Regions from separate parts of the Homo sapiens genome. Here regions 1, 2, 3, 5 and 6 are each reported to be linked to region 4. The links are microRNA targets in miRTarBase. Many come from high-throughput screens and were not tested one by one. Region 4 holds a microRNA gene; each other region holds the end of a gene's coding sequence.
What was found. Region 4 holds the annotated microRNA hsa-miR-4651 (CGGGGUGGGUGAGGUCGGGC, at 3,276-3,295, shown strand). A microRNA usually pairs through its seed, bases 2 to 8, with sites in the 3' UTR of a target mRNA and lowers its output. Matches are read on the target gene's strand: a 7mer-m8 pairs with bases 2 to 8, a 7mer-A1 pairs with bases 2 to 7 and ends in A, and an 8mer does both.

Region 1: miRTarBase lists HOXB6 as a target of hsa-miR-4651. Seed matches in the 3' UTR shown: 7mer-m8 at 2,899-2,905.
Region 2: miRTarBase lists TESPA1 as a target of hsa-miR-4651. The part of its 3' UTR that is shown has no 7-base or 8-base seed match.
Region 3: the mRNA of SPATA6 is a reported target of hsa-miR-4651. Seed matches in the 3' UTR shown: 8mer at 2,162-2,169 and 7mer-m8 at 3,062-3,068.
Region 5: the mRNA of CYP2B6 is a reported target of hsa-miR-4651. Seed matches in the 3' UTR shown: 7mer-m8 at 4,921-4,927.
Region 6: the mRNA of RHOB is a reported target of hsa-miR-4651. Seed matches in the 3' UTR shown: 7mer-A1 at 4,739-4,745 and 7mer-m8 at 4,735-4,741.

What each region holds. Positions count from the first base shown.
Region 1 is chr17:48,593,072-48,597,071 of GRCh38, forward strand. HOXB6 (homeobox B6) reads right to left here. Exons shown (of 4, transcript NM_018952.5): 4 at 2,680-3,601. The coding sequence ends at 3,342. HOXB5 (homeobox B5) reads right to left here and starts at 708. Exons shown (of 2, transcript NM_002147.4): 1 at 50-708. The coding sequence starts at 611. The region is part of intron 1 of HOXB-AS3 (HOXB cluster antisense RNA 3); the gene reads left to right. RefSeq lists a silencer at 332-381 and enhancers at 638-1,145, 847-916, 1,146-1,651, 2,694-3,365, 3,423-3,592.
Region 2 is chr12:54,957,920-54,961,919 of GRCh38, forward strand. It overlaps TESPA1 (thymocyte expressed, positive selection associated 1), which reads right to left. Exons shown (of 11, transcript NM_001136030.3): 10 at 3,249-3,348. The coding sequence ends at 3,250. Among named protein-coding and RNA genes, the nearest start is that of TESPA1, 25 kb to the right of the region's middle. RefSeq lists an enhancer at 1,402-1,451.
Region 3 is chr1:48,294,421-48,299,898 of GRCh38, reverse strand. It overlaps SPATA6 (spermatogenesis associated 6), which reads left to right. Exons shown (of 13, transcript NM_019073.4): 13 at 1,006-4,526. The coding sequence ends at 1,186. Among named protein-coding and RNA genes, the nearest start is that of SLC5A9, 74 kb to the right of the region's middle.
Region 4 is chr7:75,911,931-75,917,408 of GRCh38, forward strand. It overlaps MIR4651 (microRNA 4651), which reads left to right and starts at 3,267; the gene lies at 3,267-3,339. POR (cytochrome p450 oxidoreductase) reads left to right here and starts at 3,225. Exons shown (of 16, transcript NM_001395413.1): 1 at 3,225-3,249. LOC124901680 (a long non-coding RNA gene) reads left to right here and starts at 611. Exons shown (of 2, transcript XR_007060393.1): 1 at 611-809; 2 at 2,366-2,564. RefSeq lists an enhancer at 2,633-2,682 and a silencer at 2,943-3,432.
Region 5 is chr19:41,016,591-41,022,053 of GRCh38, reverse strand. It overlaps CYP2B6 (cytochrome P450 family 2 subfamily B member 6), which reads right to left. Exons shown (of 9, transcript NM_000767.5): 9 at 3,656-5,408. The coding sequence ends at 5,227. Among named protein-coding and RNA genes, the nearest start is that of CYP2B6, 28 kb to the right of the region's middle.
Region 6 is chr2:20,447,735-20,453,122 of GRCh38, reverse strand. RHOB (ras homolog family member B) reads right to left here. Exons shown (of 1, transcript NM_004040.4): 1 at 3,683-5,388. The coding sequence ends at 5,067. Among named protein-coding and RNA genes, the nearest start is that of RHOB, 3.4 kb to the right of the region's middle. RefSeq lists an enhancer at 2,361-2,922.

The DNA.
Region 1 (4,000 bases), not on the chromosome of region 4:
AAACGCAGAGAAGGAAAGCCGAGAAGACAAAAAAGAGAGAGAGAATTACCATGGCTGATGTGAAGCTTCCTCATCCAGGGGAATATTTGCGGAGTCTGCCCCTCGGGCGCGGCTGTGGAGGTGGCCATGGGCTCTGGCTGCGCCCGAGCTAGGCTGGGGCTGCTTAGCTGGCTTGCCGCTTCCTCAGGCTCCGAGGACGCGCTGGCCTCGTCTATTTCGGTGAAATTGGCGCTGGAGCTGGCTGAGGTCGCCTGGTCGGAGGGGGACGAAGCAGAGGGCTTGGCGCCGTGGCTGTCGCCGTTGGTGCAGGGCAGGGACTCGGGCGAGGACAGGGAGCAGCTCGAAGCCGCTTGCCTGAAGCGGGGCTCCTGGGCGGGCGCGGGGAAGGCGCGCGAGCTCTCGCCCACCGCCCCAAAGTGGCTGGAGGAGGCCGAGGAGCGGTTGACGCTGAGGTCCATCCCATTGTAATTGTAGCCGTAAGAGCCGGTGTGCATGGCAGCGGGATCCCTGTAAGAGCCGCTCAGAGAGCTGCCACTGCCATAATTTAGCAACTGATAGTCCGGGCCATTTGGATAACGCCCCGAGAAGGAGTTTACAAAGTACGAGCTCATTTGGGTGATTTTGGAGGGCTTGATTTGTGGATCGTGGTCGTTATAACCCTGTGCTTCACGATTTATGATGTATTAATGAATTATAGCGATGCACTGTACTTCGTTTTGCTATGTATGCGGCCAAATATGGGGGGGGGGTTGGAAGGGGGGTGGGGGGCGTTAGGGAATCACGTGCTTTTGTTGACCAGTCGTAAATTCTCGCTGATGACCTCAAGAGGTAATTCATGCTCTATGGTTACAAATAATGACGATCCGAGAATCGTTAGGGCCGATTCAATGCGAGCCTCCGAGAGAGGGGGAAAAAAGGAGAAGGGGGAGAAACAGAGAGAAGGTTGGCTTTGGCCTCTGAGCAGAGCGCGCCACCTCCCGGCGACCGACGGGAGCGCGGGCGTGAGACCGCCATGGCGGCGGGCGGCTGCCTCCCTGCTGGCTCCCTGCAGGCTCCCTGCAGTCGCCGGGAGAGAAAGAAACCCGGCCAAGGCTCAGCCACAGGGTTGAGCCTTTTAGAGCAGGGGTTGGGCTTTTTACCCACTTTCTTGTGGGTGGGGTTAGCCTCTCTATTTGGTTCTTTCTCCCTACATCATCATTGTCGTTATTATTTTAACTTTGGATGAGAAGATCAAAGATAGAGTTGCTTTTCCCTTTCTTGGGCTTTGCAAGTCTCCGAATTGGAGGCGGAAATGGGGGAAGGGTTGGAAGTTGTGTGTGAAAAACAATTATTGCAACGGGTTTTCCCCAGGAGCTTAGTCCGGCCTGCATCCTGGTGGAACTGCTGTTACCGGTCCACAGCGCCCAGGCCGAGCCGGCAGGGCTGGGCGGGAGGCTTGAAAAAGAAGGAGAAGCGTTCACTTCTCCTGGGCCACTTGGAAGTTCGAAATCCCCTTCCGGACCTCCTTGGTGGTCCTTAGCCCAGGCGTGGGGAGTGACAGAGCAGGACAGGGACCCCAGAAACCGAGCACAGCTGGGGCTAAGCGGCCTAGTTGCCGAAAAGACTGCAGCGGCCACCGCGTCTGCTGCTTAGTTTGAGTAGTAACATGTGTCTGAGAGTTTGTAAAGCGGGATCCCTTCCCCTCCTCCTCGGCTATTGCATTCGGAGGCCCCACTACAGGTCCCTCACTCGCAGCTAGGCAGTTTGAGAATTTGCCTGGTGGCAGCCGCCTTCCCGGAAAAGGGGTTCCAAGGACCCGCATGCTTTGCTGAGCACGCTGGGCGGCCAGAGACCGCCGCAGCTGGTCTCCTATTAGGAGGGGACTATTTTCTTTAAAAATAAGAAAGGAAGCGAGAGGGCGGAGGAATAAAGGAAAACAGTGACCGCAGCTTGCCTTCTGGGTGCCGGTGCAAGCAGAGAGAGAATGAGCCATTCTGGGTTGAGAGGATGACACTAAAAGCCCCATCACCTGGCCTCCTGCCCTGGGGTCTCCAAGGAGCAAGGGAAAGTTGTGGCCTTCGGCCTGTGCCTGGCTGGTGGCTTTACATTCCCCTACTTGAGGCTGATCTCCTACTTGAGGCTGATCTGCTACTTGAGGTGGGAAGGGGCACCTGGAGCCTTCAGCTGCAGGGTGAGAGATACCCAGTGGCCCCATTTTTCAGTCTCCAGAGCCACAGGCCAGGAGCGGAGGGCCAAGGCTGGCGAAAAAACCTGGCCATGTGGACGGGCCAAAGACCAGGGGTCGCTGCGAAGGTGAGGACAGAAAAGCGCTGCAGAGGCCCCCAGACTATGGCTCCGTCTCCGCCAGAGAGCTTTAGGGGCCTCAGTGGCTCCCTTAGTGCTGTGTATACACGAGGAAAGGCTAGAGAATGAGAGGGACACAGCACCTCTCCATCCCCCAAGTCTGCACGGGGAGAAGCGGCTGTGAGCCTCAGCACCAGGGAAACGCAGCGCTGGGGCCTGGGCAGGACTGATCGCTCCAGCCTTTATCTCAGCTGTAACTTCCCAGTCGAACAGGGCTCGCTTCGGCGGGCCAGGGCTCTCGCCTTTGCTGAAGAATTCTGGCTCAGGAAAGATGGAGAGGCTGGGGGTTGAGGAGAGAGGAAAAAATGGCAGGGGAGGATTGGAGGTGACCGAGCGTCGAGTTTTCACATCTTTATTATTGTTGTTGTTGTTGTTATTATTATTATTATTATCATCATCATCATCATCATCATCATCGAAGTATTTCACGTCCAGAGCTAAGACAAGACTACAAACACAACACATAGAAAATTAATAAAATAGAACTTTGTTTTCTTCTGAGGCTCCTCTTCTTACTTCTAGGTAGTATGTGCTCCTTCCAGTGGCTTTGGGGAGGGGGTGGGAGAGACGACAGGTCTGGGATCAGGGAGTCTTCAAGGCCCCCGCTGAGGGGACAGCGAATCTACCATTGAACCGTGCACGGGGGACATGGACAAAATGAGACGCGACAGGGACAAGAGCATTTTGCTCTGCTTCCAGGAAACATCAAGTGAGTCCGCTCCTCAGTTCTCACCAGGAAGCCTGATCAGGCTGAGGCGAGTTCCTCGGGAAGGAAGGGCGCGCGGGATGCTGGGTGGGCTCGAGTAGTGAGGCCTCAGAGCACCCGCCGGGAGCTGTGCGGGCGGGGGCGTCCAGGAGAGCGCTGGGCCCCGCCTGTCTGCGCCGGAGAGCAGGTCTCCTGGCTCCCCCACCCGAGAGCCTTCCTTCCCGGGTCTCTCTGACGCCCTCGGCTCCCCACAGGCCTTTCCCCTCGCGTCCTCCCTCCCTTTCCAGCACCTTCACTCGGCCTGTTTTTCTTCCTCCTCCTCGGCACTGAGCTGAGACGCGCTGAGCAGTTTGCTCTCCTTTTTCCACTTCATGCGTCGGTTCTGGAACCATATCTTGATCTGCCTCTCCGTCAGGCACAGGGCGTGCGCGATCTCGATGCGCCGCCGCCGCGTCAGGTAGCGATTGTAGTGAAACTCCTTCTCCAGCTCCAGCGTCTGGTAACGTGTGTATGTCTGGCGGCCTCGCCGGCCGCTGGGCCCAAAGGAGGAACCTGTTACGCAGAGTGGAGATGCTGAGGCCTGCGGTCACCGGGCCCAGGACCCCCTCCCCTAGTCGACCCTCGAACACAGACTCCAGCCAGTACCGGGATGCCCTCTATTCTGCCGGCTCCCTTCCCCCGTTTCGCACTCCTCCAGCGCCCCCTCCAGATTCCCTCCTAGTCTCCTAGGCCTGTGCCGTCTGTCTAGACTCTAGATGGGGGAGGGGAGGAGCAGTTTGAACTCCCACCTGAGCCTGGGGGGAGGGGCTGGTCAGGTGTGTCTCTTCCTAGTTGCATCTTGTCTTTCCCTCCCTTTCCATCCATCTTGTTCCCACCCCCCGTCATCCCCCCAACCCAATGATAAATCCAGGCCGTTAATCCGTAATGACGTAGATCGATCCATAGTCCACA
Region 2 (4,000 bases), not on the chromosome of region 4:
AAATGTGGAAAAATGTGTGCCTTAGAATCAATAAAATACAGCATTTTAAACCATTGCCTCTCCTGCTGTAATGAAGCCCCATCACTGGCAGAAAATGGAATCTAGTTAGGTACTTGAAATGTATGACTCCTAGCAATACTTTCTCCCTAGCAATTCAATTCTGATATTTTAAAATACTGACCTTTAGACAAAGTTGGGACAGGTTTGTGAGAGGAACTTGTGTTCTGGGCATTGCATTGCATAGATTGCCCAGGAATGTATAACCATATAAATCCTGCACACAGCCTGCTTTGTGGAACATCTTGGCATTTTTTTTCTTGTGCAAGGCTGACATCTGCTGGACAAACAACACTTAAGCAAAGTGTTGCATTTTAGAGTAAATTCAATTCTTGGCAAGAACCTACTTGTGGAGTATATACTACACATTTTCTGAGGAGAAGTTGCATGTAATTCTTATCTTTGTTTTTTTATAGGTAAGGTGTTTTTTCCTTCTGGCTTCTTTTATGATTTTTCCCTTTACTTGTGATTTTCTGTAGTTTAAAAATTATAAGCTTAGGTGTAGATTTTTGCGTTTTTTTGTGCGTGTGTTTATTCTTTTCGGTGTTCTCTGAGCTCTCTGGATCTGTGGTTTGGTATCTGACATTCATTTGGGGGAATTCTCAATTATTATTGTTTCAGATATTTCTTTTATTTCTTTCTCTCTTTCTTCTCCTTCTGGAATTTCCATTATGCATATGTTACACCTTTTGTAACTGTCCCACATTTCATGGATATTCTCTTATATTTTTTTCAGTCTTCTCTTAGCTTTTCAGTTTTGGTGGTTTTTATAGCTATAGTCTCAAGCTCAGAGATTCTTTCCTCAGCCATGTCCAGTCCACCAATAAGCCCATCAAAGGCATTCCTCATTTCTGTGACACCATTTTTTATCTCTAGCATTTTTTTTACTCTAAGGATTTCCATCTCTCTGTTCATTTGTTCTTGCGCACAGACTACTTTATCCATTAGAGCCCTTATCATTTTAGTTGTTTTAAATTTCCAGTTTGATAATCCTAACATCCCTGTCATATCTGAGACTGGTTTTAACGTTTTCTCTGTTTCTTCAACCTGTTTTTGCCTTTTACTATGTCTTTTTTTTACAACTGGACGCGATGTACTGAGTAAAAGAAATTGATGTAAATAGGCTTTTAGTAATGTGGTGGTAAGGTTTAGGGAGAAGGGAAGCGTTCCATGGTCTTATGGTTAGGTCTCAGTCTTCCAGTGAGACTGTGCCTCTGGATTGTGACTCTCACCTGTGCTTCTCATCCTCTCTGTCCCCTTTAATGGGACGGGATGGCTAGAGTAGGCAGGAGTTGGGTGTTTCCCTTCCTTCAGGTCGGTTAGTCTCTGATAAAACCTCATCCGGTTAGGTTTTTGGTATCTAGTTTCTCCCGAGGGAAGACTTTGTTAAGAGGAATAGAATGCTCTGCTGCATTTCAAAATGGTTCCTTTCTCCCGCCCCCTGCGGGAAACACTAGGGGATTTTTCTCCAGTATTTCCTGTGAGAACATGGTTGAGCTCCTAGAAGTAAGACTCCCAGAAACAAGGGGCCTCCCAATGACTGGGTCTCCCTAGAGTTTTTATTTCTCAGACTGGTCCATGCTGAGCATCCAGTAATTCCTCGGTTATTGTCCGGGTTCTCTACCGTGGTTCTGATTCCTGGGGGAGTTTATGCTTTGGGGTTTTTGCTCTAACAAGTCATAAATCTTTGCATTTGCCTATTTCTCTAATTTGAGGAGAAGTGGTTTGCCCTGTGACCCACTTCTCTGATGGGTCTAGAACGGTTACTAATTTTTCAGTCTGTTCAGGTTTTTACTTGTTGTTTGGGTGGAGTGGCCGCTTCTAGCTCCTAACATGCCAGACCAGCAACTGAAACCATCTGAAACTTCTTGAAGTGCATATGACATATTGATGCCTTCTGCTATTTACCTCTTTTGTGACTAAATACATACATATGATTCATATACCCTGAGATGTAGGTAGTAGGTAAGAGAGAAACAAGAGTGATTAGATTCCTAAAACCACAGAGAATTAGAATTAAAACAGTTAGAATTGTAAATATCTTTGTGTGTCTGAGCAAGTACCACTGAAATTTTGGAGTATTAACTAAGAAAACAATTAGACTAGAAAATGTAGAAAATGGTACCAAGATATCCAAAATAAAGGAATCTCTAAGCAAGATTTATTTACTTAATTCAATAAAGATTTTAATTTATACTATCTGGGGAAAATACCATTATCCCTTATGCCATTTTCTTTGTGGTTGTAGCAGATAGGTGGTTAAAACTACAGAAAGATTAATTTTCATTAGTTTAAATAATAAATTACTGGCCAAACTATTTAAAGGTATAAGAGATATCTCTGAAAAAATTAATACTGAAAAACTCATATCTGGAGGAAAGAAATTTTAGCTGCAATAAATAACAATGTGAAATTCATTTCCTGCTTTGAGGAGGGGAGGGAGAGCTACCTTCATCAGACCACAGTTGCAGAAGGGAGCTCAGACCCTAAATGAGCATAGCTGTGAGGTACATTGAGGAGTCTGCTCTGAGTTCAATGATGTGGGCTGATTAGAACATAGCTGAAAGCAGGTGTTGGGATATTGATTTCCATGGCTGGTCCTCACCTGTTACAAAACTTCTACTACAATGAGTTTCAAACTTCAATATGCAATCAATTATCTAACCTAAAGATCTTGGTAAAACTGTGATTCATTAGGTCTGGGGTGGGGGCTGACAGTCCACATTTCTAACAAAATCCCAGGGGATGCTGATGCTCCTTGTATCTGTACACTACAGTTTGAATATTAAAGTTCTACACAATGTCTCCTGGAACAGCAGTTCTCAGACTGTGATTACCAGACCAGCAGCAATAGCATCACCTGAGAACTTCTTAGAAATGCAAATTCTTTGGTTCTATCCAGGCCAATTCAATCAGACACTCTGGGAGCTGGGATCTGGTCATTTGTATTTTAACAAGCCCTCCAGGTGATTGTGATGCCTGCCAAAGCCTGGGCATCATTGATCTAGAGAGGTATTTTCCAGCCATAATAGAATTACCTGGAAGCTTAAAATAATTAGTCATTGGTTTCCAATTAAATCAGAATTACAGAATGTGGGACCCTTTATTATGGGTTTAAAAAAAAAAAACCTTCCTCATTTGATTACAATGTGCAGCCAGGTTTGAGAACTGCCTGAGAGAGGCCCACTTACTTCACGAGTCTTTGCCAGCAAAAGTCTGGTGGTGGTGGGGGTGCCTGGGTCTGCTGGGCCAGCGACTCTGACTCTGCTCCTCCTCACTGTTGCTTTGCACCTGTAACCAAGATCCCACAGAACTCAGCCAGAGCCAAGGGGGAAAGGGGGTAAGGAAAGGTGCAGGTGGCAGGTAGCTGTAGGGGAAGGAGGCTGAGTGTACTTGAGAGACAGCCTCTTCTGTGGTGTCAGGGACACAGTAATGAGGAAGGCAGGAGCGGAGGTGTAGCTCTACATTCAAGGAGAGGTGACATACATGCAAATGATATTTCAAATAATCACGGCTTCTTTTTGTGGCAAGGATTTAAAAGCTTTTTAAAGAGATCCCAACACTTCATGGAAGTATCTTCCATAGACCCAGGCGAGAGGAGTTCTGAGTCTTAGAGGGTCAGAAGAGTTGGTGGACTTAGAGAACACGAAGAGTTGGTGGACTTAGAGAATGTGCCCACCTAGTCCTGCACTATTCCTTCTAGAACATTCTTTGGTTACCCAGAATCACAAAGTTTGCTGGTCAAATGGCCCCAAGCCGGTTGCAGGAATGTGCGCTGGTTTTGCCTGATGACTGTTCTCTCAAGGGCTGACCTCTCCAGTAGTGTATGCAGCCTAGGCCCAAATGATGACCAATGGCTCTTTGTGTAGGTGGGAGCTTGTGGCATTTGGATGTGCAGGCTCGGGTAACCAAACATGGACATGCAAGGTCCCTTATGGTATAG
Region 3 (5,478 bases), not on the chromosome of region 4:
AGGGCAATAGCAGCATGGCATAGTAGAAAGGGTCTTAGAGCACACACGTTGTCTTTTTCATTTTGCCACTTACTAGCTGAGCAGTCTTAGGCAAGTCACTTAACTTCACTGAGTCTTCATTTCTATATCTACCAACTTCTATGTGTTGTAAAATGTATTCATAAATAGATATAAAGTACCTGGTTTAGTGTCTCATATTTAATAACGTCTGTGTTTAAATTTTAAAACAATCCTGTAAAACTAAAGTTAAGGAAGTTGAGACTCTGGATAGTTAAATAAATTGCCCAAGGTCTCACAGCTTATAAAGGACTGAGCTGGAATTCAGTTTCAGGTATGCCTGACTTTTAGCAACTATGCATTCTTTTTTTTTTTTTTTTTTTTTCCGAGACGGAGTTTTGCTCTTGTTGTCCAGGCTGGGGTGCAATGGCGTGATCTCAGCTCACTGCAACCTCTGCCTCCCGGTTTCAAGTGATTCTTCTTCCTCAGCCTCCCGAGTAGCTGGGATTATAGGCAAGCGCCACCATCCTCAGCTAATTTTGTATTTTTTAGTAGATATGGGGTTTCTCCATGTTGGTCTGGCTAGTCTCGAACTCCCGACCTCAGGTGATTTGCTCGTCTCAGCCTCCCAAAGTGCTGGGATTATAGGCGTGAGCCACTGTGCCTTGGGCTGTGCATTCTTATACTGGCCATACCAGGCCAGTATAAGAACTGCTTTTATTATGTTCTGCTTTTATTATGCTGTACCTGTGTCTGTTCTCTGAATTCCTTTTTCACTCTAACACAAAATTTTCATTTTACTGTTTTATAACAGTTTTACACAGATACTTCTGCCTCCCCTTTTAAAATGTCCCTCTTTGAAAGCACAGGCCTTACTCTGTTTTATTTTTCACAGCCCCAGCAGAGAATTAAATAGCCATAGAGTACTCAATAAATATTTGATTTACATAGTACTATCTCTAATTTTGTTTCATTATTGTTTTGAACCTTTTATATCCCTTTTTATAGCTCATGTCAGCAGCCACGTGGCACTTTCCATTTGGATGACGGTGAATACTGGTCCAACAGGGCAGCCTCTTATAAGGGAAAATCCCACCGACCCATCTTTGAGAACAGCATGGACAAGATGTACAGGAACTTATACAAAAAGGCCTGTAGTTCTGCTTCACATACACAGGAAAGCTTCTGAGACCATCCATGATAAACCTCATTAGTGTCCGTGTCAATTTCTCAATGAAAATGTTTGATGTGATCAATATCTGTATTCCTTTTTTTAAAAAAAATGGGATTATAACTAAGTACAATAGTTATACTTGAATAAGTTCATTACTTCAAATGGTAAATTATCATAGGCAAGCCTTTTAAAATAATTATTACAGAAGAGTCTGCTGTGTTACAAACATTAGAGCTCTGTCACACAATCACAACTTCCAATATGTGACAAGGATATTCTGTTACATGTACACCTCATATTCCATCTGCAAATCCAAGAATAGTTCCTTTCTAGAAATGTTTTTTTTGCCTTACTCACCTTGCAATTTTCTTCTCATCTACTTAACTGGTTATCTTGCCTGTGTAAGATTTAATTAATATTGACTACCTTTTCTTGGTGATGAACAAAATGATATCCTATACAGAAATGAATTTCCTAAGGGTTTAAACCCTGTTTTCACTAACATTTTCTACTTTTTCCTTTTTCAGAACAGGCTATTCTATTTCTTAGCTCATAGGCTTTCTTTTTAAAGACTATATGATCATTCACTCCTTTTTCTCTGGAAGAACTGTGTAAGTTGCTTAAAATGCATAGCAGTTAGCTAGAAATATCAGTGCCATGGATGATCAAAAATTTGAATAACTAATTTTTAAAGATAAAATTCTTTGCATGATTTTTTTTCTAGGGCCATACCTTTTGGTGCAACCAGAATCAGAAAATGGCCTCTGTTAGTAAGCTTATAGAAACCTAAAAATAATAATGGAATTATATTGTAATTTGACTGCTTGGAATTTGTGTAAGTACCATATGGCCCAAGGCACTATTATAGTATCCTCACTTTAAAAAAAAAAACACTTGGAACCACAATGTGAGTAAAATATTATAGCAGAACGCTTTGTGGTAGACACTGAAAATGTTGTTGATTGATGGATAGAATTAACTTCTCCTCCCCCACCCCAGCACACACCTGTGAAGCCAATGATACTATAAAGACATAAAGAAATCAGCTACTTTATATTTAATAGAGAGTGAGGGGAGGGAAAGGAGAGTGTAGGAATAAGTGAACTGGGCTTATAGTCTTGAAGAGTTGCCTAAAAGATAATATTTTCTCATTGACTCTGTTTTTGATTAATTTTACAGTTATGATTGAAAAAGAACAAAATGAACTTCCTTTAAAATGAAATTAAAATGTGAAACTTGCTGACTTATTTTTGTAGTAGAACTTGTTAACATCATGTTAAGGGTGCTTTAGTATCACAGTCTGTGATATATCAGAAAGGGCATTAGAGCTATCTCTATGAGCCAGGAGTCCTAGGCTTTAGTATCCCATGTCTGCCGTTTTCTAGCTGAGTCTATTTAATTCTCAGATCCTTTGTTTCCTCAGCTATCAAATGATAAGAATGTAGTAGACCCCAAACTATGTTCTGTGGACCAAGATCACTGTTTTAGGAGATAATCGTAGGAATGTAGGTATAAGTATGTAATTGGCCATCTAAGTTTAGGAAAATCTGTTTGCTACACACATACACACACACACACACACACACACACACACACACACACCTCTTAGAGAGTCATATGTAGGATTATAGAGGTAAAAAGAGATGATATTAATGCTGGAATAGCGCCTGTAAACTGGGGCTGTCTACAGCAAATTAGGATATATGGTCACTGTGCTCATTGTGAACAGTAGCTTGTTCGAGGCTTTAAGAAAATTCTGGTATAAATCTGTCTTACTCTGCATCTAGTAGACAGCCTGGCATGTAATTGATGTTCCTTAAATATTTATCGAATTAACCCAGAATTTTCTAAACTAAATTTAGCATGTACCACTATTTGTTATTCTTGCCACCACCCCCCATTCCCCTAGCTCCTCACACTACCTGCCAATGTCATCCTAAGGTACATGTGGATACCTAGGTTGTAGAAATGCTGGACTACACAATTGCTGAGTTACTCTCTGGCTGTAGATTATATGATGAGGTATTTTACAATCAGCTTTTGAAGGTCAACATTGAATAATGCTCTTTTAAAAAAATTATATCCTCAGTGTTTTTCCATGGAAAAATAAGTGAAAATTCTTTTAAGAGTTGCTGTTTGGTGAAAAGAACAAACATGACTTTCAAAGAAAATGTTTTACTATCACCAAAATCTCCCAAGTGAATAAGTACCACAGAAATTACTTATTGCACCTGTATCTGCCATTGGCTGTGAAAAAGGCTGCAAAAAGTAGGGCTGAAAGGGAAACTTTAGAAACTAATACTCTGAAAGATGTTTTCCTATGGATTAAATTTAGTGTCTTTCTGAAAGTTGGGGGCAAATTCCCAGATACTAATAGCATCTTTGCTAAGTGTCTGATTATCTTCTATCCCCTAGGAGGAAAGAGTGGTCCATGTTGCTGTAACTACTACTATGAGTGCTTATGCTGTATTGTTTTTAAAGAGTAAAACCTTTAAGTACTAATAGTTGTCTTTTCTCATTCACAGGAGCAGAAAGGTGCAGTTGTTTATTCTCTTAGCCTTTTTTTTTTCCTGTATTTCCCACAAATCTAGAAATAATTATTGGAGTTAATATGAAAGATAAATAGGCTTTTCTTTTTACTTTTTAATTTTTTTCTTTAAATCATAAAAAACCTTGGGATTTAGAAAAATGTCAAAATCGACAAATAAAGATGAATCATTGGAATGAGACTCTTCCTTGGTTCTACTAGCTAGTTATATAACCTTATTTAAGTCATTTATGCTTCTTGGAGCTCAGTTTTCTCACCAACAAGGTGATAAAAGGGTTAATTTAGAATGATCCTTTGACATTTCATAATTGTACAATTAATATGTACGATCAGGAAGTCCTAGGCAGGCAGAGTTGTTTTCTGATTTCCAAAGATTAAGCCCCTGATGAAAAATCTGGAACAAATAGAGAATTTTCATTATTGTGTTCATTTGCTAATAATAGCTTTATTGAGATATAATTCACTCTGAAAAAGTATACAATTAAGTGGTTTTTACTATATTCACAGAGTTGTGCAACAATAACCACTCACTAATTACAGAATATTTTATAACTCCCAAAAGAAATCCTGTAACCATTAGTGATCACTTCCCACTACCTCCTCCCCACAACTCCTGGAAACCACTATATGCTTTTTGTCTCCATGCCTATTCTGGACATTTCATATAAATGGAACCATACAACATGTGACCTATTGTATGTGGCTTCTTTCACTTAGCAAAATATTTTGAGAGTTCATGCATGTTGTAACACGTATGAATACTTCATTCCTTTTTATTACTAAATAATAATCCATCATATGAATATACCACATTTTGTTTATCCATTCAATTGATAGATATTTTGGTTGTTTCCACTTTTTAGGTATTCTGAAATGCTGCTCTGAACACTTGTATACAAGTTTTTTGTGTGGACATATGATTTTATTTCCCTTGAGTATACATCTAGGAGTTGACTTGCTGGGTCCTATGGAAACTATGTTCAACATTTTGAAGAACTACCAAATTGTTTTTCAAAGTGAACGTGCCATTTTACAAAGATCAACTGTGTTGATCTTTATCTTAGGATCTTAGGCAAGTTATACATTCAAGCCTCATCAATTTATTCATCACATATATATTAAGAACTATGTTAGAAATAGAGGGTATATAAAAATGTATCTTTAAAAGTATGAAAACAAAAAGTGTATTTAAACATTTGCAGTCGTTTGGTAACTTCCATGGTATGAAAATGCAAGAATGGGGATAAAGGCCTTCTAGCTTGATGAAACAGAACATGCAGAGGCATGAAAATGGGAGGGAGCATGATTGATCAGGAAACTCCTCCAAGTGCTTTAGCTAGAAGTGGTGTGCAAGGTTGCAAATGCTATGGTAGAATATGACTAATGCAGTAAGAGAACTACAAAGAAGTCTAGAGCAGCATTAGAAGAGGTGACCATTGAGCTGAATATTGAAAGATTGAAAGGACTTTTGAGAATAGGAAAACAAGGTGGAATAAACTAAATATTGATCAGATTTTACAAGAGTGGAGATGGAGTTTAAAATATCCAGAGTCAGTTAAGAATAAAGATCTAGAACTTGGGAGAACTCAAGAATACAAAACACATTTTGAAGTCAGATAAAAATAATGAAGTCAGATAAAAACAAATGAAAGCTCTGCTTTTTGTTTTTCTCCTAATTTATATGTGACCATAATAGGCACCCTGAGAGTGCTGGACCTCAAGTAATTTAATGTTTTGCTAATTAAGGAGGCTCTGGTGG
Region 4 (5,478 bases):
GGTGTGGTGGCTCACGCCTGTAATCCCAGCACTTTGGGAGTCTGAGGAGGATGGATCACCTGAGGTCAGGAGTTCGAGACCAGCTTGGCCAACATGGCAAAACCCCGTCTCTACTAAAAATACAAAAATTAGCCAGGTGTGGTGGTGCACACCTGTGATCCCAGCTACTCAGGAGGCTGAGGCAGGAGAATCGCTTGAACCCAGGAGGTGGAGGTTGCAGTGAGCCTAGATCTCACCACTACACTTCAGCCTGGGTGTCAGAGTGAGACCCTGTCTCAAAAAAAAAAAAAAAAAAAAAAAAAAAAAAAAGAGGCTTCCTTGCCAGTGGGTGTAGCAGAAACGAGAAGTGACATAAACAGTCAGGAAGCCGGCTAGGTGCGGTGGCTCACACCTGTAATCCCAGCACTTTGGGAGGCCAAGGCAGATGGATCACCTGAGGTCAGGAGTTCGAGAGCAGCCTGGCCAATATGGTGAAACCCCATCTCTACTAGAAATACAAAAATTAGCCGGGTGTGGTGGCACAAGTCTGTAATCCCAGCTACTCAGGCAGCTGAGGCAGGAGAATCGCTTGAACTCAGGAGGCAGAGGTTGCAGTGAGCTGAGATGGTGCCCCTGCACTGCAGCCTGGGTGACACAGTGAGACTCCATCCCCCCCAAAAAAGTCAGGAAGCTGCTGAGATCATCCAGGTGAACGGTGAACCCACGTGGCCCCAACTGGAACAGGGACAGCAGAAAAGATGACAAGAGGAGGTTCTGGAGATAGAATCCATAGGACCCAGTTATTGGTTCAATGGGAAAAGGCCAAAGAGGTAAAATGCCTGTTTCCTGATGTTTCCTTAGTGATGCTATATTATTAGCAGACAGAGAAGACTCAGTGTTTTAGGAGTTCTGGTTTCAAAAAAAGCAGGGGGCATGGAGTCAAAGTCCAAATTTGAAGCCTCACTGGGACATCCTGGGGAGATGTCCAACAGGGTGTTGAAAAGATGGCACAGAGTATCAGATATCTGGGTGAATTTCTCCACAGCTCTCTCTCTGGGTGAGTGTGGAGTTCAGTCCCTTCTTTGGACAGGTATTGTGCCCCACCCTGAGGGCTACTGCATTCATCCAACCTGTTGGAGGGACTGGTTCCTGGACATAGGAAACCTGGCACCTGGGCCATGGTAATAATCTCTTTATATAGGATTTTGCTATTTTCACAATATTTTAAAGATGAAGAGTGGATGGGAATGGTGGCTCACATCTGTAATTCCTGCACTTTGGGAGGCCGAGGCAAGGGATCCCTTGAGGCCAGGAGTTCAAGACCAGGTTGGGCAACATAGCGAGACTCTGTCTCTACAAAAAATTTAAAAATTAGGCTAGGTGCAGTGCTCACACCTGTAATCTCAGCACTTTGGGAGGCCAAGGTGGGAGGACTGCTTGAGGTCTGGAGTTTGAGACCAGCCTGGGAAACATGGCAAAACACCATCTCTACAAAAAAATTTCAATCAACTTTCTTTAAAATGAAAAATAAAAATACAAAAATTAGCCAGTTGTGGTGGCGCATGCCTGTAATTCCAGCTACTAGGGAGGCTGAGGCAGGAGGATCACCTGAGCCCAGGAGGTCGAGGCTGCATCCCAGCCTCAGCGACAAAGGGAGACCCTGTTTCAAAAAATAAGTAACATATATGTTATTATATAATATATATTATTTATATAATATATAAATATAACAAATATAACATTTATATAATATATAAATGTTATATTTATGTATTATTTTATAAATTAACTTTTTTTTTTTTGTGAGACGGAGTGTCACTCTGTCGGCCACACTGGAGTGCAGTGGTGTGAACTGGGCTCACTGCAACCTCTGCCTCCGGGGTTCAAGTGGGTCTCCTGCCTCAGTCTCCCCAGTAGGTGGGATTACAGGCACCCGCCACCATGCCCAGCTAATTTTTGTATTTTTAGTAGAGACGGGGTTTTGCCATGTTGGTCAGGCTGGTCTCGAACTCCTGACCTCAGGTGATCCGCCCACCTCAGCCTACCAAAGTTCTGGGATTACAGGCGTGAGCCACCGTGCCTGGGCTATTTTTAAAAGATGGAGAAGGGGCTCTGAGAGAAGTGAGTTGCACAGTGTTGCAAAAGGAATTCACAGCACAGCTAGTAATAATAGTAGTAGTAGTAATAATAACAATGGCGATGAGAACACTTAGTAATGCCGTGCTCTAAATCCTTTAGGAACAAAGGTTATACCACTTAATCTTCATGACCCTGTAAAGTAGAAACCATAGCAGGAGGCAGAGGTGGGCTTCACTCCCCAACCAAGGCTGCCAGACTTTTCAAACCCCAGAAGCTCTCTGTATCCCCCCACTCCTCTTCCATCCAGGGCTTGCCTCCTGCTTGGTCACTTCCCACCCCCAACAGGCCGGCCTTCAAAAGCGAGCTCTAGGCAGCGTGTGGGACCTCACGCCTGTAATCGCAGCGCTTTGAGAGGCCGAGGAGGGAGGATCACTTGAGACCAGTTCGAGACCAACCTGGGCATCATAGCGAGACCGCATCTCTGCAAATAAAATAAAATAAAATTAGCTAGGTGTGGTGGCGCGCCTGTAGTCCCAGCTACTGGGAGGCTGAAGTGGGAGAATCGCCTGAGCACAGGAGTTGAAGGCTGCAGTGAGCTGTGACTGCACCACTGCAATCCAGCCTGGGCGACAGAACGAGACCCTGTCTCTAAAAACAAACGCGCGCCCTCCGCCGTCAGGCTGGATGGAGGGAACCCAGGGAGACGACTTGGGCCTGAAGCCTCGCCAATTTCAGGTGAGGAAACAGGGCCGTGGAGGAGACAATGTGGCGATCACAAGCAAGCGGCGGCCCGAAGGAGGAGGCTAGACCGGCGGGCGCACAGCCACAGTTCTGCAGTGATCCCCGGGAAGGTGGGCAGCCGGCCCGGTGACCTGCAGGGTCCGAGCTGTAGAAGCCGCAGCCGCCGTCTCCAGGCGACTCCGCCACCCCCGGAACCACGCACTTTCATTTCTCTGCCGGGCGACCCAGCCGAGCCGCGAGGGGGCGTGGCCGGGCCGGGCCGTACCAAGAGCGCAAATTTGCAGGGGGAAGCGCGGGGCTCCGGGAATGCACGCGCGGCTCGAGTGGGCGGGGCGGCGGCCCAATGGCCACGCCCCCACCCCCGCGGCCGGCGAAGGCGGTGGTAGCGCCTCAGTGGTGTGGGCCTGAGCCCTGCCCAGGTGCCCGCAGAGAGCAGCCGGGCTGCCAGCGGTGAGTGCTATCTTTCGCGGCGACGGCGGGGTGGGTGAGGTCGGGCCCCAAGACTCGGGGTTTGCCGGGCGCCTCAGTTCACCGCGGCCGCCTGGCTCTCTGCGTCGGGGTGGGCCCTCGGGCCTGGGCACTGCGCGTCTGGCCCGACGCTCGGGCGGAAGGCATGGCTCCCACCCCGGCCCTCCTCCGCGTCGCCCTTCCCCTAGAGCTGATCTCCCGCGGCGGCCTGAGGGTCGACTTTTCCACAGCTTGGGCCGAGAGAGCCCGGCAGGCCCTCGGCTGAGGGTTAGGGCTCGGTATCTCAGGGCTCGGGGTCCAGTCCCCGCGCCGCCGCCCCCCACGGGCTAAGCCACTTTAACTCTCCGAGCCTCAGTTTCCCCATCTGTACGATGAATGGGCCTCGGGAGGCAGCGAATTCTGGGGGTACCTAACGTGAGAGGCGCTCGATGCATGCTCATGGGACCCGAATCTAACCCTGCAGCATCAGGTGGGCTGAGTCGATGGATCACGGGAGCCCCCCAGCCCGGCCTGCATCCCTGAGGGCAGTGCCCCTCGCAGTCAGGTGTCTCGGCGGCCCCCACAACACAGGTACCCGGATCTCCTGGGGGAGCCGGGACACCCTTAGATCGGGGGAGCAATTGGGTAAGAGTTCAAGGTCTCTTGGGCGCCAGGGGGAGGAGAGTAGAGGTTTCAGTGAGCTTGATTGACTTCGACTTTCTGCGTATTGTTTTTCAAAACGAGTTACCCTTGTGTAAACTGGTGACCACTAATAAGGAGTTTGGGGCTGTTTCAATGAAAGTGGCTGTCTCCTCTCTTAAACCCTTAAAGCTGCAGCCTTGCCTTGCCTTGCCTCTGAGCTTGGCCAAGCTGGAGAATGATGCCAGCACAAAAGGAGACAGGACTGGACTGGGTGGCCCTGGTTTGATTCTTGGCAAGCAAGATACCTCCTGGAGCCTCCGTTTTCTGATCAGTGGGTCTGGTAGTAAGACAGCCACCCTGCTCTCCCCACAGGGTTGAGATTCTGAGGATCAAGACAGGGTCCCAGAGAGTGGCATCGAGAACTTTAATCCTCCTTGTAAGCAGAACGTTTATGGAACCCTCTGGGGGATCCAGTATCCCCACCGTTGTTCACTGCTGTAATTCCTTGGGTCTTGCTTTATGGAGAAGGCATTGATTCATTAACCATTTGCAAGTTCTACCTACGGAAATCCCTTTTGAGTGGTTATGGGGTTGGCTTGGTCAGGAGAACAGCTCCAAAGGCCCAGTTAGTAAACCAGGGAACCCAGAAAGGTCCACTTCCTTTTTTTTGGGAGGAGGGCTGTTTTAGGAGTTCTTATTTTCCTTTTAAGAGAGTGGTTTTTGAGCTACTTATGACCTTCATGCCATCTAATGTTGGAAACTTTCGCTGAGCAGATAGCTTATTATAAAAAGTATTTGTACAACATCCGCATTTCAGAGAATGGGATGCTAGCTGCCAGTTGCGTGGTGGTGTGGAAACTTAGGAGTGATCTTAATTTTCCAAAATTCTTCAGGTCTAGCACTTGAAGAAATAATAGGTAGATTTGAAATGAAACAACCCAGGGATATTCCTGAAAACAGCAGCATTGACCGCAGCCAATGTAAATCAGGTGTGGATCGTCCTGGGTAGTAGGAGTTTATAAATGCCACAGAGGATGTTTGCTGCCAGACATACCTGAATTTTAGGACCTGCTGTTGGTTAACTCTGGGTTGATCCACCCTTAACCCCTTGAAAATCAGAATCTGTGTTAGGTAAGTCTGTGTATGATTAGGAGACAGGCCAATTGAAATCAAAACTGCTTGGCAAATCCAGAACATTTACTCGTGAAGTCCATGGAACATTTCAAGTTAAAAATAATTTAGCTTTTAAGTAACTTTTTTTTTTTTGTGAGACAGGTCTCACTCTGTCGTGCAGGCTGGAGTGCAGTGGCGCAATCATAGCTCACTGCAGCCTCAACCTCCAGGATTCAAGCAATCCTCCCTCCTCAGCCTCCCAAGTAGTTGGGAGTACAGGCACGCACCACCACACCCAGCTAATTTTTTAAATGTTTTTTAGAGATTTGGTTTGCCATGTTGCCCAGGCTGGTCTCGAATTCTGGGGTTCAAGTGGTCCTCCTGCTTTGACCTCCTAAAGTGCTGAGATTACAGGTGTGAGCCACCGTTCCTGGCTTTCTTATTTCTTCTTCTTTTTTTTTTTTTTTTTTCTGATGG
Region 5 (5,463 bases), not on the chromosome of region 4:
ATCATAGGGGTGGTTTCCCCCATACTGTTCTCATAGTAGTGAATAAGTCTCATGAGATCTGTTGGTTTTATAAGGGGAAACCCCGTTCTCTTGGTTCTCATTCTCTCTCTTGCCAGCCACCATGTAAGACGCAACTTTTGCCTTTCAGCATGATTGTGAGGCCTCCGCAGCCATGTGGAACTGTGAGTTTATTAAACTTTTTTTCTTTATAAATTACCCAGTCTACGGTATGTCTTTATCAGCAGCATGAAAATGGACTAATACAATGGACAATAGAGCAAGACTCTGCCTCTATAAATAAATAAAGACAGACGGATAGATAGATATATGATAGATAGATAGATGATAGATAGATAGATAGATAGATAGATAGATAGATAGATAGATAGACAGGAAATAAGAACCCTGCCTTCCTAGAGCTGTCATTTTAGCAGGAGAAGGCATTATCAGAGCCAATGCCTTGTTGCTCCTGGAAGGTTCCAAGCTTGCTTTCTTACCTCTGGGTCTTTGACCTTGCTGTTCCCTCAGCTGAGAAGGCTTCTCCCCACACCTTCCCATGGCCAATTCTCAGAAGTCTTCTCAAAGGAGCCCTCTCTGACCACTCAATCTGAAGTAATCCCCATGGAACCCTTGTACACTGTTGGTGGTAATGTAAATTAATAGAGCCACTTTGAGGAACAACATGGAGTTTCCCTAAGAAAAAGAAAAAAAAAAGTAGAATAGGCCAGGTGCGGTGGCTCATGCCTGTAATCCCAGCACTTTGGGAGGCTGAGGTGGGCGAGTCATCTGAGGTCAGGAGTTCAAGACCAGCCTGGCCAACGTGGTGAAACTCCATCTCTACTAAAATTACAAAAATCATCCAAGCGTGTCGGCAGGTGCCTGTAGTCCCAGCTACTCAGGATGCTGAGGCAGGAGAATCGCTTGAACCCAGGAGGTGGAGGCTGCAGTGAGCTGAGATCATACCACTGCACTCCAGCCTGGGTGACAGAGTAAGACTCCATCTCAAAAAAAATGAATAAAGAAATAAAATAAACAAACAAAAAGAAAGAAAACCACTAAAAATAGAGCTACCACACAATCCAGCAATCCCACCGCTAAATCTATATCAAAAAAAAGGAAATCCGTATACTGAAGAGATATCTGCACTCCAGTGTATTTTGCAGCTCTGTTTGCAAGAGCCAAGTTATGGAATCAACCTAAGTGTTCATATGGTGCCCATACAGAAGGGAGTACTATTCAACCATTAAAAAAGAATGATATCCTGCTATTTGCAGCAACATGGATGGAACTGCAGGACATTATGTTAGGTGAAATAAGCCAGGCACGGAAAGGCAAACTTTGCACATTCTCACTCATTCGTGGGAGCTAAAAATTATGACAATTTAACTCATGGAGATAGAGTAGAATGATGGTTACCAGAGACTGGGAAGGGTGGAGGTGAGGGACTGGGGATGGCTAATGGGTACAAAAATAGAGTTCGATACAATGAATAAGATCTAGTTTTTGATAGCACAATAAGGTGATGGCCGTCAGCAATAATTCATTGTACTTTTGTTTGTTTGCTTGTTTATTTTTTTGAGATGGAGTCTCACTCTGTCACCCAAGCGGGACTGCAGTGGCACAATCTTGGCTTACTGCAAACTCCACCTACCAGGCTCAAGCAATTCTCCCGCTTCAGCCTCCAGAGTAGCTGGGATTACAGATGCATGCCACCATGCCTGGCTAATTTTTTTTTGTATTTTTGTAGAGACAGGGTTTCACCATGTTGCCCAGGGTGGTTTCGAACTCCTCAGCTCAGGCAATCTGTCTGCCTCAGCCTCCCAAAATACTGGGATTATAGGCATGAACCACTGTGCCCAGCCTGTGGTACATTTTAGCATAACAGAGGGAATATAACTCTAATGTAACACAAAGAAATGATGAGTGCTTGAGGTGATGGTTACCCCATTTACCATGATGTTATTATTATATGTGACTATACACTTTATGCCTGTCTACATTGTATGCCTGTGATTATACATTGTATGTCTGTATCGAAATATCTCACTTACCACATAAATATATACACCTGCTATGTAGCCACAAAGATTTTTAAAAATAAAAATAATTGCATAGACTCCTCAAACCCCAATCTCCAGTACTTTTCTTGTCTTGCTCCACCCCAGGACCACATCTCAAAGCCTCAAGTCTATCAGAATTTCACCCTCCAGTCTGTCTCCTCTCCATTTCACCTTATAAAATTCCAGAAGCTTCTGTAGTTAATATATAAGCCAGAAAGGAATTCCCAAGCTTGTCTGTGGAATCCCACCCAAAGTACGACCCCAACTGCCTTGCTGCCTGTGAGCTGTTTCCCGTCTACCCACCTCCTCCTTTTCCATCCCTTCCACACTCTCCCATCTCACCACCTGGACAGACTTCAGAAAGCCCTGTGGTTTATTTGCAAAATGCTCCCCCAGGAAGGGCAGAGGCCAGGGCCTAGGAGAGAGGCAGCCCTGGGAGGTGGGATGGCCCCAGAACCAGAGTAGCAAGAGGCCACTGGGGACAATGAGGAGTGAGAAGGCTGAGGGCACCGTGGTCCTCATTCTTCCCGCCTTCCATTCTGCTGTCGCTCTTAAAAGACATGTTGCTCTGTTTGTTATTTCTGTGGTTGGTGAGGGAATGTGTGCCATGCATTTGTACTGGCAGAGTCTCTGTTAACTCTTCAGAGGCTACAAGGAGCCCAAAGATGGCAGATGCTGCAGACGCCAAAAGGTTAGCATCTCAGGGTGGAGTCCCAGGGCCAGCTTCCCACTGGCCACAGGCTGGCTGATGTATCCTTGTGATAATGATATTAAACTTGCAGCACCTCCCTCAGGGAAGGGTGGTGGTCCTGCTGGTGGAATGTTTGGAGGCTGGATTTATTTATTTATTTATTTATGAAACGGAGTCTCACTTTGTCACCCAGGCTGGAGTGCAGTGGCGGGAACTTGGCTCACTGCAACCTCTCCCTCCTGCATTCAAGCGATCACCCTGTCTCAGCCTCCCGAGTAGATGGGACTACAGATGCACACCACCATGCCCGGGTAATTGTTGTATCTTTTTTAGTTGAAACACGGTTTTTGTATGTTGGTCAGGCTGGTCTCGAACCCCTGACTTGAAGTGATCCACCCGCGTCGGCCTCCCAAAGTGCTGGGATTATAGGCATGAGCCACCGCGTCCAGCCTGGAGGCTGGATTTAGAGTGGTTCCACTGCAAGAATAGCGCTAAGCTTTATCAAAAGGTGGCATTGCAGCACGGGGTATCGAGAGTAACTGGTAGGCAGAATGGGGGCATCCTGGGCCCTTTGGGGATGAGAATTTATTCTGGACCTCACAAGAAAGTGGGATATGGAGGAGATATAGTCTGATGGAGGAGGCCTAGCTCCATTTTGGGTGGGCTGTGGGGGTAGGGGGTGGCTGATTTAGCCACTCATTCATTCATTCCTCACCAAATATTTTGAACACCTGTCATATGCCACACGCTGTGTTGAGAGTACAGGGATGAGCAAGACAATGGTTTGGCCCTTCACAGAGTTGGCATTGAGGTGAGAGAGGCATTCTCACCAACATTCCTTCCAGAAAAATCCCTAGAGACCCGACAATAAAAGAATCACACACAAAATGGCACAGATCACCTCTTGACGTGGGGAGGTCAGGCTTTAGAGATGTTTATTTAATTCTCAGCAGATTTGAAGGAACATATCAGGGAATCCAAAGCACCAGTGCAGAATCCCACAGCTCAGGGAACCTGGGCCAAGGGGGCTTTTTGATAGACGGAAGCAGTAGGAAGAGGCAGCTGGGAATGAGGACTGGGGAAGACTACAGCAGTGTGTGACTGTGGTCTACAACAGGCATGAACCTCAAAAATAGCATTCAACATGAAAGCAACCAGACACAAAAGATCACATATTATGCCTGTAATATCAGCACTTTGGAACACTGAGGTGGGTGGATCACCTGAGGCCAGGAGCTCACCACCAGCCTGGCCAACATGTCCCTACTAAAACTACAAGAAAATTAGCCAGGCATGGTAGTACATGCCTGTAATCCCAGCTACTTGGGAGCTGAGACTGGAGAATCTCTTGATCTTGGAAGGCAGAGGTTGCAGTGAACAAAAATTGCACCATAGCACTCCAGCCTGGGAGACAGAGCAAGGCTTAGTTTCAAAAAAAAAAAAAAAATCAAATATTGTATGATTCTGTTTATGGGAAATATTCAGAATTGGTAAGTCCATAGTGACAAAAACCAGATTGACAGGGGCCGAGATGAAAAAGAGAATGGGGTATGGGGAGTGACAGCTTGATAGGTATGGGTTTTGTTGGGGGAGAGATAATGAAAACATTTGGAGCTAGGAGAATCACCTGACATCAGGAGTTCAAGACCACCTAAAAATACAAAATTTAGCCAGGCGTGGTGGGGGACGCCTGTGATACCAGCTCCTCCAGAGGCTGAGGCAGGAGAATCACTTGAACCCAGGATGTGGAGGTTGCAGTGGACAGAGATGGCACCACTGAACTCGAACCTGGGTGACAGAGTGAGACTCCATCTCAGAAAAAAAGAAAATGTTTGGAACTAGATGGTGGTGGTTGTACAGCTTTGTGAATGAACCACACGCCACTAAATTTTACACTTTAAAACAGCTAATTTTATGTTATGTGAATTTCAGCTTAATTTTTAAAATTATATATATACATGGCTGGGCACGGTGACTCACGCCTGTAATCCCAGCACTTTGGGAGGCTAAGGTGGGTGAATCACTTGAGTTCAGGAGTTCGAGACCAGCCTGGCCTACACAGTGAAACCCCATCTCTACTAAAAATACAAAAATTAGCCAAGCGTGGTAGTGCATGCCTGTAATCCCAGCTACTAGGGAGGCTGAGGCAGGAGAGTTGCTTGATCCCCGGGGGTGGAGGTTGCAGTGAGCCGAGATCACGCCACTGCACTCCAGCCTGGGCAACAGTGTGAGACTCTGTCTCAAAAAACAAGAACATATATATATATATGATTTTGTATATTATAATTTTCGATAATCTCACTCCTGCACTCACTTGCAATGTGACCTCAGACAACTGGTGCCATGGAGGGGAAGGAAGCTGGCTTGTAGCAGGTCTCTCAGAGGCAGGAAGTTGCGGGGAGTCAGAGCCATTGTCTACAGAGGCGGGGACACTGAATGACCCTGGAATCCTTTGACCCCCTTCCCTCAGCCCCTTCAGCGGGGCAGGAAGCGGATCTGGTATGTTGGGGGTATTTTGCCCACACCACACTCCTGGGGTGTCAGATCGATGTCTTCTGGGGCCACGGGGCTGGCCATGGAGAAGTTCTGGAGGATGGTGGTGAAGAAGAGGAACAATTCCGCACGGGCGATGCCTTCACCAAGACAAATCCGCTTCCCTGTGGACACAGAAGGTCACCAGTGTGGGCACAGGGCAGGTGCATACACTTCGCT
Region 6 (5,388 bases), not on the chromosome of region 4:
TTATGACTTGTTTAGGCACACCACTATGCTAAAAACTCCAAAAGGGTAAGGATAGTGGCTGTCTGTTTAGCTGCTGTATCTCAAGCTCTTAGCATTGTGCTAGGTTCACAATCTTATAGTCAACGATAAAAGAATAAACAGGAAGAAACTGAACTGGGGTCCTCCAGACTCTTACCTCTTGGGCCAGAAAAGGAGCTGCTGAGAGTCGGGGGGCACTCTGAGAGCCCAGGTGCTCCTTCCAGCCAGAAGATGGACCAAGTAAGTAAGGACCCAGCAAGCTGGCACCCAAGGTCCCTTTTGGTTTCACAGCCTCCTTGAGGCCAGGGTGGAGGTTTCTCCGGAGCACAGGGATCACAAAGCTAGTCCTGTGTCTGAATCACATCCCTGGAAGGCACAGAGGAAACAATGAAATCTTCATCACCAACCCCCTCTCCTGGCCTGCCAGATAGATGCTCCTTGTTTTGTGAACAGGGAGCGAAGAGGAGAGGCTGTGTTTTACTTGGCTAGGTAATACCACTCTTCTTGACTGAAGAAATATACGCTAGAGGGACTAAAAGTAGAAAGTAGTTCTCACCCAAGACAGCTTTATTCCCAGAGGCGAGGCCCTACAGTAACATAAAGAAGCTGTATGTATCCTCGATGTGCCAATGGCCCAATTATCTCCCTCCCCACCCCACCCCCAAGATTTTTTCCACCTACACATCACCCACTCCTGCTTAAGATTTAGCTCAAATGATTCCTCCTCCATGACACCTTCCCCATCTTCCCGGGCAAAAATAGGTACCTGTGCCCTAGGCTCCTGTCGTGCCCTTGCCTAATGCCTCCATTACATCATGCTATAATTGTGGTCTTGGTGGATGCCTTCTTGCAACTGCCAGGGGGCCACCAGGCTGTGAATGAGCTCCTGGAGGGGGAGGACTGTGTTTTATTGCTTTTGTATTCCCACCTCATCAGAGTTCACAAAGTAGGTGCCAACGCTGATTAAATTAGAGTGCTGTTGCATTCTGAATTCAGGAATGGCAGAAATAGGTTGGGGCCTGGTGGCTCATACCTGTAATCCCAACACTTTCGGAGGAGGATATAACAGGACTGCTTGAGCCCTGGAGTTCGAGACCATCCTGGGCAAAATAGCAAGACTTTGTCTCTACAAAAAAAAATTTAAAAGTTAGCTGGGCACACCTGTAGTCCCACCTACTCAGGAGACTGAGGTGGGAGGATTGCTTGAGCCCAGGAGGTTGAGGCTTCAGTGAGCTATGATGGCACCACTGCACTCCAGCCTGGGCGACAGAGCAAGACCCTGTCTCTTAAAAAGGAAAGAAAGAAATGAATCTCTAGAAGGGCATTAAACCCATTTTTGCAGAAGAATGTAGGGAAGAGAAGATAGGAGTTATGTGTGGCTTATCTTAGAAGGAAAGCTCTCTGGAAGCTATGTACTCCGTTGTGTAAGGAAGTCAAGACTGCAGGGCATAGCACCATAAGTCTGTGGAATTTAATCTATTTTCATAGGAAACCACCTCCCTACTCTGTACACTGACAAGGACTCTCCCTTATTCGAAGCCAGTAGTTCTCAAAGTGTGGTCCCAACCAGCAGCTTGTCATCACTTAGAACCTTGCTACAAATTCAAATTCTTAAGCCCTAGCCCAGACCTACTGGATCAGAAACTGTGGGGTTAGGCCCAGCCATCTGTGTTTTAACCAGCCCTCCGTGTAATTCTAATACACACTTGACTTTGAAAACTGAAGTTCCAAGTCTACTGAAACTCACGTGAAAAAGACCTTAGAAATACAATCCAGATTGATTAAAGATTAAGATTAAAGGAGAACTCAAGACAATGCCCCTTACTGCAAAATGCCCAGGATCAATGCAACTTCCCAGTATTTTCCACGAAACAGTTCAACAGGCAATTAAATCAACTCAACACATTTATTTTAAATGTGCAAAATGAATTTTCATATTCTAAGAGTAACACCAGATGTTTTACCTCTTTTTCCTAATTGATTTTCCAGCCTACAGCAATTCATCTTTATGTTTTCCAGTTGGATCCTAATGCAGCAAGAAGAGTGTGTTCCGGCAGGATTATGAAATGCCACGCATTTTCAAACAAGCATAACTTGGGCTGCCATGCGTCATCTGAGTGTTTGTCTGCCCATAATATAAAACACAGACAGTTATGGGTACCAGGCAGATCAGAGCAACCCAGAAAAGGCCCTTTCAGGGAGTTGGGCCTCCAGGCTCTTGGCTGGTTGCAAAGCTGAGTCCTGGGCATTCAGCCCAAGCCTGAACTCTTCCCCCACTGGGTCCTGCGCTCCCTGGTACCAAAGGATTTGCTAGCTGTAAAAGCTGCAAATAAACATGCTGTTTGTCGATGGGAAGTTTTGTCTTTAAAATGAAAAAGGAGACTGCAGTCTGGAGGTGAGTGGGGCCGAGGGACTGAGGAAGGAGTTAGGCAGTTGCTCAAAGCAGGCAGCCTGGATAGACCCCTCTCCCCTCTGCTCCTGGAGGAGCCCAGACAATCCCCTTCTGTTAGTCAATGCACCCACCCAGCTGAGCAGGAGGTCCAGTTACTGCCAGCATTTAAGTGGGTGAAAGGTCACCACCAACCAGGTTTTATTCACTCAACAAAAGCTCTTGGAGTCTGGGGTAAGACCAGGAAACAGAAGCCTCAAGCTTTGAAGCAAACAACTTCAAAGGAGACCTCCACCTTTGTCCTGGGAATGGGGAGGAGGGGGAAGGAGAAGGTGGCAACTAAGTGCTAGAAACCCAGAAAATGCTGATTCAAAAAAAATGAAAACCACACTTCTCAGGCAGTTGACACTCTCAGCTACCTTCCCTGGAAGCTGCGAGAGCTGGCAGGTTTGAACCATCATGCCTGCAGCAGAATTTTAATGTGGTCTCCACCTATAAATCAGCCCGTCTGGTTCTAAGAACCATTACAGCAAAGCTAAGTGTCTACGATTAGAGTTTATCATGACTCTCAAAAAGTGGCAGCTCCAACTTTAAGAACCACCAAAACATCCAATGTTCTTTCCACAATATGGCCCTTCTCTGAACTTAGAATAAATCATTCTAGGTTACTTAATAAAGGACATATTGGGATCAAAGCTTGATAATTTTAAAAAATCACCTCTTTATCTGAACTCCCCCACTTCTGGAAGCTCCAGGCCCAAAGATAACAACCTACAACTTCCTGGGATATTGTGTAAACCCCTTGATGGCCTGAAGGGAACCCAGTAAACAGGCTTCCTGATAGCGTGACCCCACACCAACGATTAATAAAGGTTTTCTAAATTTAAAATGCACAAATGATAACTTTCCAAGACTCAAAGAATAAGCAAAGCCCCATAATAGACTTAAAGACACAAGTGTTTTTAAGACACACAGATGAATGAAATCAAGATCTTCGGTCTCACCCAATTGAACTGAGTACATAATAGGTCAAAAGTTTTTGCACTGGGTGTCGGGGTATCCACTCATCTTCCTCTAGGAATGTGACAGGAACAACCTGGTCTCCCTTGGTCACCCAACCCCCACATGCTCTCAAAGGGACTTCATCCTCATTTACTACATTTGCTATAAGGGAAACGGAGTTGGCAAGAAAGGATCTCGCCTAGGAGAATATCTCCCTTGTTCCAAATTCACAAGGGTATTTTTACACACTATTAAACCACAAGAGCCATTTTATAAATGTCATCATCATAGTCTTTTAATATTTTACATAAAAAACTGTATACACAGCTTATAGAACTTTTATGTAAACATCATAAGCTCACCATTTTGTCATTTGTCAGTTTATTTAAAAAATAAAAAACAAGACAACAATTTAGTAGAAGTACCACTGGGAGGGAGGGGAGGGGAAAAAAGGATATACAGGGGCAGGTGTATTCTCTGTACAGAGGTGCAGAGAAAATTTCACATAGCTTTAGAGAATGCCTTGTGGAAAAAAAAAAAATAGGCCCCAATACTTGTTACTGCCCTTTATCAAAACTGTGTGCATGACCTGCACAAATAAAATCACAAAACAGTGTTGCCACATTCTTCAAGGAAACAAAGCAAAATTTAGTGGGTTTCTTTTCCCTCTCCTTGTTAAAAGTCATTTTTTAAAAACATCAGAAGTAGATGAGGTTACAGCGTACAAGTGTGGTCAGAATGCTACTGTCGTATGCAAATGACGAGTGCATTAAGTGTCAAACAATGAAACAATTGTGCAAAGAATAAAAAAACAAATTTTAGCCTTTAAATAAATCAAATAACATCAGTTTCTTGGACTGAACAATTTTCACTTCTAGGACAGGCACAAAGTTCGCTTATGGCAAAAACAACCCCACAGCGCATCCTCCCTCCTCCCTCCGGTAGCTGGTGGAGGGTTCGCAGCGGGCTGGCCCGCAGGAGAGGCTGTGCTGAAGCTGTGTCCTCCCCAAGTCAGTTGCAAATGTCTTCCCCAGGGGTTGGAAAGATGGTCAAGTCCTGTTCATGCTTGGGCGGGAGTCTGGCCCAGCCTGGGCCAGAGCGCTCACCCATCACCACCCTTAAATAACACCATCTTAGCTCCGAAAATAAAATTATATCTATATTTATATAACATCCCCCCATCCTCCCCAGCAGCCCTCCCCTCCCGCAGTACCCGGGGTCTATGTTACAGACAAGGGATATCAAGCTCCCGCTGGTGAAGGGCGAACATCTGATGGGGCGCGGCCACACTCCCGCGCCAATCTCGCCCCCGGGGATCAGAGGCGGGGGTGGGGTGAAAATGGGGCGAGGGGAGTCGAACAGACACACAGCCACACACTCTGAGGCCCGGCTCTTCAGAAAAGCATGCTCAGGGGACCCTTGGCACTCAGTGGGGAGCCCAGGCCTGTGCAACACAGCTGGACGCACACAGACACTGGGATGGGGGCGCCCGGTGCCCACGCCAAGTCCTGGCGCAAGCCAGAGGCGTCAGCAGACAGATGCCAGGCAGGCCGGTGGGGTCCTTGTGGGACACGGGTCTCCCCTTCTCCGGGCTCGCGGGGGACTGGTCCAGGAGGGGGAGCCGTGCCGGCAGGGGCAGGCGCGACGGGCGCGGCCCTCATAGCACCTTGCAGCAGTTGATGCAGCCGTTCTGGGAGCCGTAGCGCTTCTGCAGCGCGGCGCGCGTGGCCGTCTCGAAGACCTCGCGCACGCCTTCCTTGGTCTTGGCAGAGCACTCGAGGTAGTCGTAGGCTTGGATGCGCACGGCCATGGCGCGGCCGTCATCCGTGCGCACGGGTTCCTGCTTCATGCGGGCCAGCTCTGTGCGGACATGCTCGTCGCTGCGCAGGTCTTTTTTGTTGGCCACCAGGATGATGGGCACATTGGGACAGAAGTGCTTCACCTCGGGGACCCACTTCTCGGGGATGTTCTCCAGCGAG